2 separate regions of the Homo sapiens genome follow, and region 1 is linked to region 2. A link means that fine-mapping ties the variant in region 2 to the expression of a gene that starts in the linked region. Tissue or cell type: whole blood. Region 2 holds a variant in brackets; the other region holds the start of a gene. All regions are shown on one strand. Distances are from middle to middle.

Region 1 (8,000 bases), 270 kb after region 2:
CGGGAGGCGGAGCTTGCAGTGAGTCGAGATCGCGCCACTGCGCTCCAGCCTGGGTGACAGAGCGAGACTCCATCTCAAAAAGTAAAATAAAGACAGAACTTATAAATAAAGGGGAAATGGAACAGAAATATTTGGAAAACTCTCAGCCTGGCCATGTAAGAATAAAAAACATGTTCACGACAGACTATTGAGGGTGGCCAAGACACTGCTAAAGAGATGATGGATAGAAGGAAACCAGGTTCTTTCTATTCACCAAGACAATTAGACAATGACCCTGAAGGGTCATTACCCGGAGATCTTCAAGGTAAGCTAAGACTTTGAGGGCAAGGTTCCCAGAGAGGTGCCTGTGGGACTTCAGCATACACTGCCCTACATTGCCCTGGGACTCTGCTCCCCAAATTCTGGCACAGCACCCCACAGTTTGACCCACCATTCTGGAAGGTATAAGCTGCAAACCTTGGTGGCATGCATGTAGTGCTGACTCTGCAGACATGCAGAATGTACAAGCTGTGGGGCCATGGTGGCCTCCACCTAGATTTCAAAGGATGACTTGGACCGGCTAGGGGCTCAGGCAGACACTTGTCACAGAGGTGAGGCATGGGAGCCGGGGAGCCCCGATCCCCCAGAACTGTAGGGTCACTAGTGTGCAACTCCAACCTGGGAAAGCTGCAGGCATGAGACTCCAACCTCTGAGAGCTGCTGGGTGGACTGATCCCAGCAAAGCCATAGGGGAGGGGCTGCCTGAGGTCTTGAGGGGTCCAAGCCCCACTCCAGTGTGCCCAGATCGCAGGACAGGGAGTCAGAGGAGATTATTCACCAGTTTTAAGACTTAATGTTTTTTTTCCATTGATATAGTTTGGGTATTTGTCCCCTCCAAATCTCATGTTGAAGTGTAATCTCCAATGTTGGAGGCGAGGCCTAGTGGGAGGTGTTTGAATCATGGGGGTGGATCCCTAATGAATGGCTTAGTGCCATCCCCTTGGTGACCAATGAGTTCACTTGCGATCTGGTTATTTAAAAGTATAGGGCACCTCCCTGCTTTTTCTCTTGCTCGCACTCTCACCATGTGAGACATTTGCTCTCCCTTGTCCTTCCAACGTGATTGGAAACTTGCTGAGGCCCTCACCAGAAGCAGATGCTAGCACCATGTTTCTTGCACTGTCTGCAGAACCATGAGTGAATTAAATTTCTTTTCTTTTCTTTTTTTGAGACCGGTCTCACTGTGTTGCTCAGGCTGGAGCACAGTGGCAAGATCATAGCTCACTGCAGCCTCCATCACCCAGGCTCAAGTGATCCTCCTGCCTCAGCCTCCTGAGTAACAGGGACTACAGGCACACACCATCACACCCAGCTAATTTTTTTTTTTTTTTTTTTTTTTAGTAGAGATGAGGTCTCACTATATTGCCCAGGATGGTCTTAAACTCCTGAGCTCAAGCAATCCTCCTGCCTCAGCCTCCCAAAGTGCTGGGATTACAGGCGTGAGCCACCACACCGGCCTGTCTTTTCTTTATAAATTACCCAGCCTCGGGTATTTATTTGTGGCAATGCAAAAACAGCCTAACACATGCATGTTGGGTTCTAGATGTAGCTGGAACCAGTTACCCCTTTCTTCCTGCCTCTCTCTCCCTTTTGGAATGAAAATATCTCTCCTATGCCTGCCCCACCATTGTCTTTTGGGAGTAGATAGCCTGTTTTGATTTCACAGGTTCACAGCTGGAAAGGAGTCTGCCTCAGGCCAGCTATGCCTGCCTTGGAGTCTTAGCTTTATCTGATTTAGATGGGACTCTGGATTTGAACTTTTCAGTTGGTGCTGGAAGAGTTAAGCCTTTGGGGACTATTGGGATGGAATGAATGTATTTCACATGTGAGAAAGGCATGAATTTGGGGGGCTAAGACAGAATGCTATGGTTTGAATGTGTCCCCTAAAGTCCATGTGTTGGAAACTTAATCCCCAATGAAACAGTGTTGAAAGATGGGAGGGACTTTTAAGAGGTGAGGAGGTATGATGGCTTTGCCCTCATGAATGGATTAATGCTGTGATCTCTAGAGTGGGTTAGTTATCTTGAGAGTGGGTTCCTGAAAAAACAATGAGTTTGAACCCCTTCCTCTCTCTCCACCCCCACCTCTCTCTCTTTTCTTTCCCTATCTTCTCATTCTTTTGCCCCTCCACCTCTGCCATGGGAAGACACAGCAAGAAAACCCTCGCCAGATGCGAGCATCTTGATATCAGACTTCCCAGCCTCTAGAATTCTGAAAAATAAATTTCTTTTCTTTATCAGTTACCCAGTCTATGGTATTCTGTTATAGCAACACAAATGGACTAAGACAACTAATTTTCAGTTTTCAAATGCGCATCCCATCAAGTCCTTAAGTTTTATACAGTCCACATTTAATTTCTGCTGCAACAAGACTGTCTGATGAGTAGCAAAAACTGAAGGACAGTGTTCAATGTTAAGGCCATGCAGACTAATATAGATAACCTGAACAGAAAAAGAGATATTTTACACAGTGATGAGATGGTTTCATTTTTGCACACATGAGCAAATGCAACACATTCTCTGTGACAACTTTGGTTTGAAAGTTCTATCCTGCACCAGTCCTAGAACAATTTCCACTGGTCCAGGATGTCAATGCTCAGACACAGTACTGCATGGAATCAGGTGCAGGATTGAGAACAGGGCATGCTTTAGAAAAAGCAAAAGCTATTTCCAGGACTATCTGCTATGCTGGTTCAGCTTTGCCAAGCAATATTCAAATACTCATGGAGCAGCACATACTATGAGCAAAGTACTTAGTATTGTAGAAATGCAAAAGAAGAAGAAGAGGAAGAAAAGCTTAAACTGTTTATAATCCCCAAAGAAGTTTACAATCTGCTTAGAAAAATTATTTTACTATGCAAACAGCTGAGCCTGGCTGAAGCATCTGTTTGGGAGAGGAATGGAGAGAAGACTGGGAAGTCCACAGTTAGATTGTGTGGGGCAGGACAGAGCACCCAAGATTTACCGCATAGGGCACATCTGGGCAGTGTGAGGATGTCTAACAAAAAAGCCTAGAGATGCTCGGCGCGGTGGCTCACGCCTGTAATCCCAGCACTTTGGGAGGCTGAGGCAGGTGGATCACCTGAGGTCAGGAGCTCCAGACCAGCCTGGCCAACATGGTGAAACCCAGCTCTACTAAAAATACAAAACCTAGCCAGGCATGGTGGTGCGGGCCTGTAATCCCAGCGACTCGGGAAGCTGAGGCAGGAGAATCACTTGAACCCGGGAGGCAGAGGTTGCAATGAGCTGAGATCACACCACCACACTCCAGCCTGGGCAACAGAGCCAGACTTAGTCAAAATAAATAAATAAATAAATAAATAAATAAATAAATAAATAAATTTAAAAAGCCTAGAGATTTCTGTGTCTCTCCACTCTCCAAGTTCAAGGCCATTTCAGGGGCCTCCCCAAAGTTTTTAAAACTTGACTTGGGCAAATTCTTTAAGAACCTTGTTCTCCTCAAATAAAATATTTTGGAAAGCGGATTTTTATGAAGTCTTGGCTCAAATTCCATGACCTTTAACAGACATCTTAATTGTTTCGTGGGAGAATATGACCCAACAAGTGGCATATGGTTTAGGTGGGGACGTTTAATTACCGAACAGTTTTGTAGAATAAGCAAGTCACACATCTTTTGTCCGATGCGTGACAGGTTTGAACCTGTAAAGCCAGGTGCCTAAATAGCTTCCAACGTTTCCACCCCACCAGCCCTTGCACCACTCCCTGTACTGGCCCTGAGCTTTCTAGTCTTGACTGAAAAGCGGGGAGGCAATGTGGTCTCTCCTGGTGCACTGTCCCGAGGAAGGCCTGCTCCGCTTCCCCGGAGGAGTCTTCAAAGGATGGAGGTAATTAATAAAAACAACCCCTGTACCTCCTCTAAGTGGTCATTAATTAATAAAGAACCTCCAGGCTCCTATAGGAGAGGTCTGTGCACCCCGCGGGCTATGAGAAGGCTGGATCACCCAGAAAGACTGAGGATGTGTCCTGGCAAAAACACAGCCTGCCCCTCACACTGCTCCCCACGGGTGCACTAGGGAGGAAGAGTTCCCTCGAGGGCCTGAGCAGGCGCCCCACACCTGCACCCGTGCAGAGGGGGCTGGGCCCGCCCTCTGCGCTCCCGAGGGAGAGCCCTACCCCCTGCATCCCCGGTACCCCGTTCCCTCCAAGGGCCGGAAAGAGGGCCCCGCGCACTGTGCACTTCTTAGGGGTCCCCCACCCTGCGCCCCCGCCACGGGAAAAAGGTCCCCGCTCTGCGCATCCGGCCCCGGAGGGACAGCCCCGGTCCTGCACTCCTTGCTCCTCAGGGGGACGGTCCGCGCCCAGCGGCTAGTGCGCCCCGGGTAGGTGGGGGCGGGGGGCTCGTCGAGTGACAGCGCTCGCCTCCCGCAGCCCGCCCGAGCCGCGTCAGGGCAGAGGCGGGGTGGGGCGCGGTTAAAAGGCGCAGCAGGTGGGAGCCGGGGCCTTCACCCGAAACCCGACGAGAGCCCGACAGCCGGCGGCGCCCGAGCCCGACCTGCCTGCCCAGCCGGAGCGAAGGGCGCCGCCCCGCGCAGAGCCCGCGCCAGGGCCGCCGGCCGCAGAGCAGGTAAGCGGGCGCGGACCGGCTGGGTCTTGCGGGGGGCGAGCGGGCGGTGCCACCTCGGCCCCCCAGCGGAGGAATTTCCTCCAAGAAAACAAAACAGGTGAGGTCGGCGGCTGGTCCCCACCTCGCCCCTGTCGCTCCTGTCTGGCACCGGATCAGAGCCGGCAGAGCGCGGCCGGGATGGGTGTCTGGCCGCACGTGGGGCGACCGGGCCCCCGATCTGCCTCTATCCGCACCCTCCTGTCCACGCGCCCCGGCCCCGGCCCGATGGCAGTGGGCGCCGCCCGCGCTGGACCCTCTCTCTGTACGCAGAGGAACGAGGATGGACTGGTTTGACTTTTACCCCAGCGTGGTCCCCTTTGACTTGTACAACAGGTTTTATGAAGGTTTCATATCGTGTGTCTAAGAGGCCAGAGTGAGGGCCGGTGCCCCTTTCCCCCGTTTCATTTGCTGCGTGTTGGATTTTCTAAGCTTTTGTGGGTCACCGGGGTGTCCCCTTGGATTTGGGGAGAAGAAAGCCAGGTCTAGGATGCGGGTTTCAGTTCAGACAAACCCTCAACTTGGGCCGATGCATAAGTCCCCGGAGAACCGCAGGGTATGGGCTGCGTGATGGGCTTCCGAGAAACTTGTGAAATGCTGATGACAATAGCGTGGACGACAGTAATTAAAAGTAATTGGCGACACATCTTAGTTAAAACGTGCAGGCACCAGAAGGCACTTCCTGTCGGTGAAGAAGACCTGTCTCCGGTGTCACGGGCATCCTGTGTTTTGCAAACGGGGCTGACCTCCCTTCCTGGGGAGCAGGAAGGGTCAGGGTGAGTGTGGCCTGCCCGCAGCTCTGCACTCCCGGAGGGGTTAGGGACCTGCAACCAGGCGGGGACACTGGCCCAGCGACCTCAGTGTCCCCTGGGTGGGCGTGCACTCTGTTTAGTGTCTGATTGAACGTAACCGTGCCGGGTTGTTCTTTTCCCTCAAGTAGACTTTATGCCATACAGCTATTTTCTTGCCCCAGTTCTAGCAGAATCTAACCAGTGTTCTAGAAGAAAATGTCCTGCCCCCATGCAGTCTCCTTAGAATTGCAGGGTGCTGCTCAGAACTGCTCCTGTGGAGAGCTTTGTCTGTTGTTTGGATCCAGCAGCGTCTTTGGGGGTGTTGCTTGAAGCTTGCCAAGGAGGAGAGGGGGGTTCTGAAGAGAGAACACCAGGGCTCTAGCCTGTCACATAACTGGGGGTGTGGAGAGCGCCTCATTGCCACTGCAGTGACTAAAGCTGGGAAGACGCTGGTCAGTTCACCTGCCCCACTGGTTGTTTTTTAAACAAATTCTGATACAGGTAATGATGACTTTATGCTTTTTTTCTTATGTCTTCTCTTCTGAATTCTGAGTGTTAGGAAGGAAAAGAAGTACAGAAGATCTGGCTAAACAATTTCTGTATGGCGAAAGAAAAATTCTAACTTGTACGCCCTCTTCATGCATCTTTAATTCAATTTGAATATTCCAGGTGCTGTGAGCAGTTTGCATATATTAGTTTAAATGTTAAATGGGATAAAATTGTGGGAAAGTGATTTCTGACCCAAGCTTCTTGGTCTGTGAGGGCATAACCTTCTAATGGCCACCTGCCATAGGTTATGATTTCTGTTTTAGTTGCTTAGTGCATGAGCATAGACCTGGAACCCCAGAGGGCCTGCTCCATTTTTATTCCCAGGGTCATTTAAATCTAGTTGAGCTTAAATGTTTGGAAAGGACACAGGTTTGCTTGAATGAACAAACATATATTGCTAACAAGACCCAGAGAAGGAAAGTTTAACTTAATGGAAATTAATTTTTAACTCTTTGAATTCTTAAATGATGTAAGAAACATACGTAATTGCATGAGTTTTCCATTTTTACATCTAGACTCCACAGACAGAAACGTTTCATTTTTATTGAGTTAATTTTGAAATATATGAATCCCTGACCCATTGTTATCACTAGCTGTTACTCTATCAGGACAGTTGCTGAAGTTTTTTGTCACTAAATTTAAAAATCAACTATCAGGTTGTCCCTTGGATGACCTGAGATTTCTAGAGACAAAAGAAATCTATTCTTCCTGATTGAAGAAAGAGTCTGAGATTTTTTTTAAACCACTGATTTGGGGATCAGGGTGTAGCCAGTGTCTCAAACTCTCCCCTGTCCCTTTTTGTTTTGCTCAAGGAGTGGGCTTGAGGCCTCAGATTGGGTGTTACTGTTATTTTGATAGGGAAAGGATCCTACTAAAGAGCACCTTTGATTATTTTGTGTGTTCAAAGCATAGAGCATCAGGAAGCTGGCAATTTCTGAACTTACCTCATAACAGTTCTGGGAATGAAGAAAAACTACCCACAAAGTTTATTCAGGGGACATATTGCGGGGGGCGGGGGGGGGGGGAGTTAAAGGAATATGGCAACAGCTACTATTTTTCCCTCAACAGGCGACATCCTCACTGACCGAGCAAAGATTGACATTCGTATCATCACTGTGCACCATTGGCTTCTAGGCACTCCAGTGGGGTAGGAGAAGGAGGTCTGAAACCCTCGCAGAGGGATCTTGCCCTCATTCTTTGGGTCTGAAACACTGGCAGTCGTTGGAAACAGGACTCAGGTTTGCTTGTTTTGCTTTGATATTGTTTTCCTTTTATCTATGCAGACTCCCCGACTATCCAAAGCTAACTTCGAAATTGGGAGGCACATGTTCCTGTTCTCAGATCTATCAACTACTCCCTAGATGGCCAGGCGCGATGGCTCATGCCTGTAATCCCAACACTTTGGGAGGCCGAGGCTGAGGTCAGGAGTTCAAGACCAGCCTGACCAAGGTGGCAAAACCCTGTCACTACTAAAAAAAAAAAAAAAAAAAAAAAAAAAAAAATTAACCAGGTATGGTGGCATATGCCTGTAGTCCCAGCTATTCAGGAGGCTGAAGCACAAGAATCACTAGAACCGGGGAGGCAGATGTTGCAGTGAGCTGAGATTGCACCATTGCACTCCACCCTGGGCAACAGGGCAAGACTCTGTCTAAAAAAAAAAAAAAAAATTTTTTTTTTTTTTTTTTTTTTTTTTTGCTAAATGACATTGAAAGGGGAACAGAGCTATCTAGAAAAATATGCTGAGGGGTTACACTCTAACTTTGGGGGCTTTAGTTTTGGTTCTGTCATTAGTGAAATTATAATGGCATAGATAAATAAGCTAGTTGTGATTAATTTCCTAAGAAGTTTTAAAACAATCAAGAAATTTCATTAGTGCAGTCAAATGCCAATAGATCTAAATTATTTGAATTGTAAAAGGAAAGAACAACCTATCTTCACAATGCTGTGTGGATCCTCAAAAGTAAAGTCCATGGTTTACTTATTTTTAGAGCTAGATATTTC
Region 2 (10,304 bases):
GCCACTGAGCCTGGCCCAAAATGTTGTTGTTGTCAGTTTTTTTTTTTTGTTTTTTTTTTTTTTTTTTTTTTTTTTTGGAGTCTCGCTCTGCCACCTAGGCCGGAGTGGAGTGCAGTGGAGCGATCTCTGCTCGCTGCAAGCTCCACCTCCTAGGTTCATGCCATTCTCCTGCCTCAGCCTCCTGAGTAGCTGGGACTACAGGCGCCCGCCACCACGCCCGGCTAATTTTTTTTTGTATTTTTAGCAGAGACGGGGTTTCACTGTGTTAGCCAGGATGGTCTCGATCTCCTGACCTCGTGATCCACCCATCTTGGCCTCCCAAAGTGCTGGGATTACAGGCGTGAGCCACTGCACCCAGCCCAAAATGTTTTTAAAAGGCATCACAGGAAATGTAACACAAACAGCTTAATATTTGGTTTTATGGAGGTGATTTAGGGAGCAATAGGAAGTAATTTATTGATAATAAAAAAGCCGTTAATTTTATAATTGTAAAGAATGTTAAGGAATTTGTGGTCTTCCTGAGTAAATTACATCTACTTAATTAAATTCATCTTTTATTCCCACATTTGTGTATTAAAGAGCATAGCAAGCTCCACTTTGGAAATGGTGGCTGCTAAAAAATGCTTCTCCTTCTGTCCTTGAGGGCTATCCTGGCTTTTCAGGAGGCCTGGACATTTATTTTATTTTATTTTTTTTGAGACCATGTCTGTCTCCATCACCCAGGCTGGAGTGGGGTGGTGTGATCTTGGCTCACTGCAGCCTCCACTTCCTGGGTTCAGTTGATCCTCTCACCTCAGGCTCCCAAGTAGCTGGGATTAGGGGTGTGCACCACCACGCCCAGCTAATTTTTGTATTTTTTTGTAGAGACAGGGTTTCGCCATATTGGCCAGGCTTGTCTGGAAGTGATCAGCTCACCTCAGCCTCCCAAGGTGCTGGGATTACAGTTGTGAACCACTGTGCCTGGCCAGGCATGGACTTTTTTTTTTCTTTTTTCTTTTTTTTTTTGAGATGAAAAGTCTTGCTCTGTTGCCCAGGCTGGAGTGCAGTGGCTCGATCTTGGCTCACTGCAAGCTCCGCCTCCCAGGTTCATGCCATTCTCCTGCCTCAGCCTCCGGAGTAGCTGGGGCTACAGGTGCTCGCCACCACGCCCAGCTAATTTTTTATATTTTTAGTAGAGACGGGGTTTCACTGTGTTAGCCAGGATGGTCTCGATCTCCTGACCTTGTGATCCGCCTGCCTTGGCCTCCCAAAGTGCTGGGATTACAGGTGTGAGCCACTGTGCCCAGCCTGGGCGTGGACTTTTAATCAGTTTTCTGGTGACAGTATATGCAACAGGTAGGTTTGGAGCTGAGAGACATTAGCTTCATAGCTGGCCCAGTACTGGAGAAGGAGAGTACCTCCAAGGGAAGAGGAGACCCGTGAATCTCTGATTAGGTCATGCTTTAAGCCAGCCCCAAGTGGACTCCAGACAAGGAGTTGACAAACTGTTTCTGTAAAGACCAGATAGTAAATATTGTAGGCTTTGTGGGTCATATGGTCTCTGTTTCAGCCGTTCGTTGTAAAGTAAAAGCAGCCATAGACAATCAATAATCAAATAGAGGTGGTTGTATTCCAATAAAACTTTATGGATTAACATCGAACTTTGTTCGTATAATTTTCAGAGTCACAAAATGTTATTTTAAAATTTTCCCAACTGTTTAAAAATGTAAAAACCATCCGGTATTAGTCTGTTTTCATGCTGCTAATAAAGACATACCTGAGACTGAACAATTTAAGAAAGAAAAAGGTTTAATGGAGTCATAGTTCACGCGGCTGGGGAGGCCTCACAATCATGGTTGAAGGTGAACGGCACATCTCACAGAGTGGCCAACAAGAGAACTTGTGCAGGGAAACTCCGCTTTATAAAACCATCAGATCTCGTGAGACTTATTCACTGTTATGAGAATAGCATGGGAAACACCTGCCCCTGTGATTCAGTTATCTCCCACCAGGTCCCTCCCCCAACACATGGGAATTATGGGAGCTACAATTCAAGATGACATTTGGGTGGGAACACAGCCAAACCATATCACATCCTTATCTCACAGGCCATATAAAAATAGGAGATGGGCCAGATTTGGCCTGTGGGCTGTAGTTTGCTCGCTGCTACCATAGACTTTTCAATTCTGTTATCATTTCATCTTTTATCCTGTAAAGCCAATTCCAACCCACTTGTAATTAAGAGAAAATCCCACGGTTCCTAATTGAAAGTCCTTTGTTCTATTTCTTGGGTATTTGTGTTTTAGGCCTTATTTTTAGATGCATCATTAAAGATTTTTAAAGTCCTTTCAGGCATCAGGACTGATGATGCTGAATGATGGAGGGTTGTGGATAAGTTTTTTTGTTTTTTTTTTAACCAGGTTAAAGGCTTTCCTGTTATCCTACTATGCTTAATTAAGAGCTGTATTTCTTAATATCATTGGTGCCTGATTAGATTTAACTTTTAGATACAGTCTGTAAGATTTTTGAACCAGAAAAACCTAAATAACTTATGACTGTTAGCAGTCATATTCTAGAAGAAGCAAATGTACTGAATTCTTATGTACCTAGGATTTTAAGGGAGTACATACAAATCTTTCCTCAGTAGCAGGTACTTTATTTTTATAACACACACATTTAAGCTGAGTTAAATATGCAGAACTGGTTGTACTTCTTTGGCAGGAAAAGGGAAGCTTAGGATATCTTGTGACCAACTACCTCTTCCTTCTCAAATAACTGGCAAATAACTTCAGGAAAATCCAGTTATGTTGTGTCATATTGCACCCCCTAGGAAGTACTGGATTCTTAGTCTTGAGTGACTTTTAAATAAAGCTACCTTTTTCTCTTTCTTACATCGCAAGATCTTCAAATGTACCATTCCCGCACAGAGAGTCCAAGGTAAAAGGACTGAAACCAAACTTTGTTTTTGTAAGTATTTTGGTCAGTGCAATGAGTTCAGAGACCAGGAGGTTAATGATTGTGAAGTCTTGTCAACAGCAACACCGTGTATGACCTGTGGTGCTTAGATGTTCAGAAACCCCAAGGTTAAAATGTCCCTGACCACATATCAGGCAAAAGGAATGTAAGGAAAACCAACTTAATCCTTTTGTCAAGAAGTATAAATGATGTATCTTTCCAATCGGGTTGCATTGACTTTTGGGTCCAAATAGCTTGTGTCCACAGGCATCTTCCCTGACACCCTGTTTTGTGGTCTTTGTCTACCACTGTAGGTCGTGGGCTCCCTCAGGACAGACCATACATCACACCCCCAGTGTCCCTCACTATGCAGTGACGTGTGGTCTCTGTACTAGCCATTATGGACGCAGAAATAAGCAACAGGCACGTTTCCTGTCCCCAGAGCCTGAACCTGCTAGCCTGAACCTATTAGCTCAGCAATTGTTTTGACTGAGTCACAGGAACCTTTTCTAGAGTCTCCGAAGGTAATGTTTCCAGTCATATTCCTCATACACTTTTTTCTCACCGTCTATTCCACCTTGCAGTTTGGCCCACTTCCCATATTCTGATTTTTTTTTTTTTTTTTTTTTTTGGTGGGATAGAGTCTCACTTTGTTGCCCAGGCTGGAGTGCAGTGGCACGATCTTGGCTTACTCTAACTTCTGCCTCCCGGGTTCAAGCAATTCTCCTCCTTCAGCCTCCCGAGTAGCTGGGACTACAGGCATGTGCCACCACGTCTGGCTGATTTTAGTATTTTTTATTAGAGATGGGGTTTTGCCATGTTGGCCAGGCTGGTCTCTAACTCCTGATCTCAGGTGATCTACCTGCCTTGGTCTCCCAAAGTGCTCGGATTACAGGCGTGAGCCACTGTGCCCAGCCATATTCTGATTCTTTTTTAACGTTTCATATTAGAAAATGTCACGTGGTTGAAATTTCACTACATCTGCATGAATATTCTGTGTGTGTTAGACCTATTAAAAACTAATGGTATTAAATAGTAGAAATGGTACATATGGATTCTGAACCTGTAAAAATGAACTTAAACGGGGGGAAGTTGATTTAAAAAAATATTAAAACATTAGAAGATAAAAGAAATTATCACAACTCATACCATGCCAAGGGATCTTAGTGAACTTGAAAAACAAAAAGCTGTCATCTGAGACTAATCTTTTTCTAACAGGGTGGCACAATAAGAAACTTAAAACTTAGCATGTTTACATTTCATAATAGAAGGTCGCTTGACCTTGGAGAACCTCATTAGCAGATACTTTACTGCTTTGTCTTTGTTCACCATTGTATGCCCAGTGCTTGGCCTGCATTAGGTCTCAAGTAAGAAGTTTAGAGGATGAAGCTGTGTTTTAAGAAGAAAAGCAAATCCCAGCACTTTGGGAGGCCAAGGCAGGTGGATCACCTGAGGTCAGGAGTTCGAGACCAGCCTGGCCAACGTAGTAAAACCCCATCTCTACTAAAAATACAAAAAAATCAGCTGGGCGTGATGGTGGGTGCCTGTAATCGCAGCTACTCAGGAGGCTGAGGCAGGAGAATCGCTTGAACGTGGGAGGCAGAGATTGCAGTGAGCCAAGATTGCACCACTGCACTCCAGCCTAGGTGACAGAGCGAGACCCTGTCTCAAAAAAAAAAAAAAAAAAAGAAAAGAAAAGAAAAGAAAAAAGAAAAGCAAATCAAGTAAACAAAGTTGTAACACGGACCTACAGATCAGGAGTGTTTTAGTTCTTAAGATTTGGAGCTAGACTCATTTCCACGTAGCAGGTGGGCCATTCTAGTCCTCAAGGGACCAGGCCGCCCTGACTTAGGCTGTGTTGACATCTTGGTGACCACCCCAACTCCAGGAGCCAAACACACTGCCTTGTCTGGCCTGAGTCCCTATCTGAAATCGCCATCTTTAGGGGCCTGTACGCTTCGATCTTGGTTTCTCCACCATCTGTACATGGTCACCCTGGCACCCAGCTCCACCTAAAAGTGAATCATCTTTCTGAATGGACTAGGAGTTAATAAACCACCAGCAGTGATCTCTGAAACTAGGTAGGCCTGTACTGTGTCTCCTAAGTGACTGAATTTCTTGTGCTTGGACGCAGGCATTTCCAGTAACTGGGTCTCTGACCTGTTTTTAACTTGCTACCTAGGTCTCTGCCCTGGCCTAATCTTGAACTGTGTTTTGATCTGGATTGGTCTGTTCTCCTGATTTGAAACCTTTAGTTTTCCCACATACTGTTGGCCAGAATAACTGAGTATGGTCACAAATTGTTCCCGTCTCTGTCTGCACTCCCCTGTGCATTGTGACTTTGCTCCTCTCACCCCCTTACTCTGGGCTTAGCCACGGGCTTGCATCGGCCAGTCGGTTATTAGCACATGTGGCATGCACAGCAGAAGGCCTGGAAAGTGCATGTGCATTGAGATTCGTTCGCTTCCTGCTGGGGACCCTTCTTCCCTCCTCATCTGGTCAGCCCAGCCTAGTCAGCGGGAGGTGTGTGGCCCAGCTACCAGCCAGCACCATCCAGCACAGCACCGACTGCTAAACAGATGAGGGAAGCCATCCTAGACCAGCCCCCAGACAACCCACTACTCATTGCA[AG/G]CCGCATGAGTGAGCCCAGCTGAGCCAGCCAAAATTATTAAAGCCCGTGTCTGTTGCCCAAAGTTCATGGCAGTGGCTGCGGGTTCAGCCGGGTTGTTCAATCTGACTTCCCTGTGAGTTCACAGATCCTGCTATCACTTAGCTGTCATTAGGACAGATCAAATAATTGCTTCATTTGCCTTATTTTTCTTCCCAAATAAAAATAGCCTTGTTTTATCTGATTTGTAAAAGTCATATATATGCTAATTATATATCCATAGTATTGGGGAGAAGCCAAAATATTAATACTTTGACTCTGGGCGGCAGGATTCCGAGTGATCTTGCTGCATATTCTGAGGCCGTGCGCTTCCGGTATGATCCTGCGTGCTTCCGGCATGATCCTGTGTGCTGTGCATCTAGACCAATGCACATTAGCAGTCATGGTTGGGCTATGAAGGTGTAGGTGCTGTCAAGGATTGGACTCAAGAATTGTGTGACTCCTACCTTGACTGGCCATTGTCTCCCTGTGAGGTTTCCAACAAGGTGAACAGGAAACCAAAGTACCCCATTTTTTAACCGGGCCTTGATACTCCAGTGTAAACTTTGGTGAAATTGATTGCCTTGACACTTAAGCAGGCCCTCTCCTCCCCTGTCTGTCTCCCTGCTACCCAGATCCCAGTGTTACCACTGGCCTGGAGGGAGGAGGGGAGGAGACCTTTTTTTTTTGAGACGGAGTCTCGCTCTATCGCCCAGGCTGGAGTGCAGTGGCGTGATCTCGGCTCACTGCAAGCTCCTCTTCCCGGGATCACACCATTCTCCTGCCTCAGCCTCCCGAGTAGCTGGGACTACAGGCGCCCGCCACCACGCCCAGCTAATTTTTTTTTGCATTTTTAGTAGAGATGGGGTTTCACCATGTTAGCCAGGATGGACTTGATCTCCTGATGTCGTGATCCACCCACCTCGGCCTCCCAAAGTGCTGGGATTACAGGTGTGAGCCACCTCGCCCGGCCGGAGGGAGGAGACCTGAGTGAGGAGGGGGAAGCGGGGAGGGCAGAGACCCGGATGGGCCACAGTGGCGTGGATCCAGGCAGGCAGACCCACAGCCCTCCTGTGCGACAGAAGGTAGTTTTCTTTCTTCCTACAGTGCATTTAAGTTCACATGCCTCACTACAAGGTTTGCAGATCCCGAAGTCTAAGGGGGCTGGGTGGCTAATGGGTGTGAATAATGGGGTGGGGTGGAGACCTGGGCAAACTGGAGGTAGTCTTTGGAGATAGGCATGCCAGATTTTTAAAACATTGTGCTGTCAAACGGAAGTCTGGAGCTACTCTTCTTAATGAAAACTTGAGTGTTCTGCCCTCTTCCCAACTTCAGAAACACCTGCCATGATTGTTAGTGTCCACACACTATCACCGTGCCACATGGACTGTGTGGTTGGGCTGTCTTCTGACTCTTTTGCATTGCAGTAACTTAATTAAAGATTTTTGTGCAGCCTCAACTTAACCTGCCCGTCTGGAGTTAGAGTGATCCCTGGGGCTGGAGTCGGGTGGAGTCTGGCTCAGCCCTCTGCCTCTGCATAATCAGGGCCTAGAAACAACAGCAATGTCAACGTCAAAGCAGACAGCACAACACAGCCATCCCATAAGGAAGCAATCCCTGGCCTTTCTATTTCCTCACTGCTCTCTGTTCTTTGCCTCCAGTGTGCTAGAATTTCTGTTGGCTGGAGATGAGGTAGACTCACCTCCTTAAGCTAATCTTACCTGATCTTCCATGTCTGCCCCATTCTTCCCCATCTTTAGCTCTTCAGATCCTCAGACCTTCAGGAATAGGTGGGAGCCAAAGACCCTGCCAGAAATCCCCTTGGGAGTTCACTATAGGCTGGCACTGAGATTTCTGAAAGAAATGTTAGCCATGCCCTTTATTCCTCAGGAAGCTGCATTATACATGGAGTCATACTGTAGATAGAAAGCAGGCAGCACAGTGTGAAAATAAGTGAGCAGTGCAGAGGGGTCCAGTGTGGCTCAGCGGCCCAGACTGTGAGCTTTGCAGTCAGATCTGGCTCAGCCTTCATAGCTGGGTAACTCACTCAATCTGTTTCCTCATCTGGGATATGGAGACATAATAATACCTTCCTCATAATGTGGTTTTGTTACCAAAACACCAAGAGTTTGGTCTAGGTGCTGCTGCTCACAGCAGTGAAAGCCAATGACTGAAATGATGAGTACAGCCAAGGAAGAAGGCTTTAATCGGCTGCTGCAGCCAAGGAGATGGGAGTTCAGTCTCAAATCCATCTCCCTGACCACCTAAAATCAGGGGTTTATATAGCAGGAAAGAAATGTAGCACTGTGTAGGAAAACAGGAACTAGGGGGGGGCAAGGAAGCAATCATGGTGAATGAGGGGCCTGGAGTCTCATTGTATGGATGTGATGATCTGGTAAGTTTCAGTTCTTCAACACTTTTTTTTTTGAGATGCCTGAAGTAATTTCCTGAGGAAAGAACTCAGATAAAACCAATAGAAATTTCAAGCTTTAAGGCAAAAAGTATCAATTTCTATGTTTACTGAAAAAATTGAGTGGGTTTCAGTCTCCCCTTGTTTATAGATTCCTCAACCATGGGGCATCTGGTCATCCATCTTTCTGTCTCCTTCCTGCTGAGGAGAGGCATTGTGGGCAGCTCCATACCATGGAAGACCTCATGACCATCCAGGAATCAAAGGCTAATCTAATACTAAAGTTTTTCTTCTGAAACACAATCTTTTTCTCCAGTCTACCACTTTCACAAAGACATCACAGCAGGACCAATCTACCTGCAAAATAAGCTTCAGTCCCATATACTTGGCCTGATTACCCACACAAAATGGAACAAGAATCACTGTTCTCATAGGCTCTCCTAAATTGGCTTTGCTAGAACCTCTCTCAAGGCCATTTTAGTCAAAGCCCTGGGAAAACAACCAGTTCCTTCAACTGTGTCCCATTACCAAAGAAAACATGTTGTTATTAACTGTATGCAAACAAACACATTGCCATGAATTAAGAATACTCACAAATAGTTTATAAATTCTGGATAAATTAGAGAAATATGCCTCAAATTCTGTTTACAAAAGTATACTCTACTCACTATACTTAAAAGATACTTAAAGGATGACTCAAAAGAAAAAAATTCTTCAGACTCTGAAAAACAAAAAGAATGAGCAATATTTCAAACAAAAAAGCCATAAAAGTTATTTCAGTCCTCCATTAGTTCCGTCCATGCAGACAACTCCTGCTCTGCTTCATGTTGAGTTAGCCATCTTTGTGAACACATCAGTGTTTCCATTAGTGCACTGGAAGTTTTCTCTCACATCCAATGGCACAATCTCCGAAGTTATCAGAAACTTGTATTCAAGAGTCCTTTTCATGAACTCCCCCCAAAGAAACAAGCCCTGGACAGTAGCTGATTATAAGTCACTTTTTGTGAAGAATCAACACAAAACAACAATTGTGGATGACAAAAGTCTTAGGACAACCACAGTTAAAGACACTGTTGACAAGGAAATTTGGTTATTTCTGTGGGATACAACAATTTAACATGAAAATCATAATTATTACTGACAACATATTAAGACATATCAGAATTATAAGAATCTAATATAATCCTGGAACACATTGACAACACATCTATATAAACATAACCAAAGGGAGCTAAACAACATCTCAGATTTGACAATGCTTCCTACATTTTTTTTTGTGTGTGTGTCAGAGTCTCGCTCTGTCACCCAGGCTGGAGTGCAGTGGCATGATCTCGGCTCACTGCAAGCTCTGCTCTCGGGTTCACGCCACTCTCCTGCCTCAGCCTCCCTAGTAGCTGGGACTACAGGCGCCTGCCACCACGCCCGGCTAATTTTTTTTTTCATTTTTTTAGTAGAGATGGGGTTTCACCGTGTTAGCCAGGATAGTCTCGATCTCCTGACCTCACGATCCACCCGCCTCGACCTCCCAAAGTGCTGGGATTAAAGGCATGAGCCACTGCGCCCGGCCACATTTTTTTTTTTTTTTTTTGAGACAGGGTCTCACTCTGTTGCCCAGGCTGGAGTGCACTGATGCGATCTTGGCTCACTACAGTCTCTGCCCCCTGGGCTCAAGCAATCCTCTAACCTCAGCCTCCAGAGTAGCTGAGACTACAGGCATGCGCCATCACACCCAGCTAATTTTTGTATTTTTTGGGTAGAGATGGGGTTTTGCCATGTTGTCCAGGCTGGTCTCTTTACTCCTGGGCTCAAGCAATCTACCCATCTTGTCTTCCCAAAGTGTTGCAATTACAGGCAAGAGCCACCATGCCCGGCTTAAATAATTCTAACATAACACATAAGCCTAATATGCCTAATATGTCTCTCTTGGACTTCAGGGAACCTAATAGCTGAAAAAGTTAGTTTAAGGTCAGAGAATTTAGAACTTGATATTTTGCTGTTGGGAAGTCTGTCAAATATCAAAGGTTTTAAGACACTTGATATCACAAAATAGGATCAGAAGTCACTATAAAACAGTCATTCATTTGGCCAAAATTATAATACAAAAACATTTTCTCTTTGATAGGAGACTGAGTTTCCTAAACATTAAGACCTAGTAAAGACAGCATGAGGCCAGCTAAATCTGTCTTTCTCCTTCCCTCTATTTGTTTTCTTCTGTGGTTTTACTGAAAAGGTAAATAAAAATCTCTTATCTCTTACATGAAAATTTTGTTCAAAAGAGAAAACCAAATTTTACCTTTGTATGGTATATTATTA

Evidence for each region. PIP is the estimated chance that this variant, and not a neighbour inherited with it, causes the effect.
Region 1: it holds the start of GJB6, and the variant in region 2 is fine-mapped to the expression of GJB6 in whole blood (INTERVAL, PIP 0.97).

Annotation. Positions count from the first base shown.
Region 1 is chr13:20,228,817-20,236,816 of GRCh38, reverse strand. GJB6 (gap junction protein beta 6) reads left to right here and starts at 4,498. Exons shown (of 5, transcript NM_001110219.3): 1 at 4,498-4,623; 2 at 5,312-5,435; 3 at 6,010-6,119; 4 at 7,068-7,237.
Region 2 is chr13:20,498,621-20,508,924 of GRCh38, reverse strand. All of the region lies in intron 2 of CRYL1 (crystallin lambda 1), which reads left to right. Among named protein-coding and RNA genes, the nearest start is that of CRYL1, 22 kb to the left of the region's middle. RefSeq lists enhancers at 1,761-2,055, 5,971-6,967. The variant AG/G (reference allele first, on the strand shown) is at 5,565.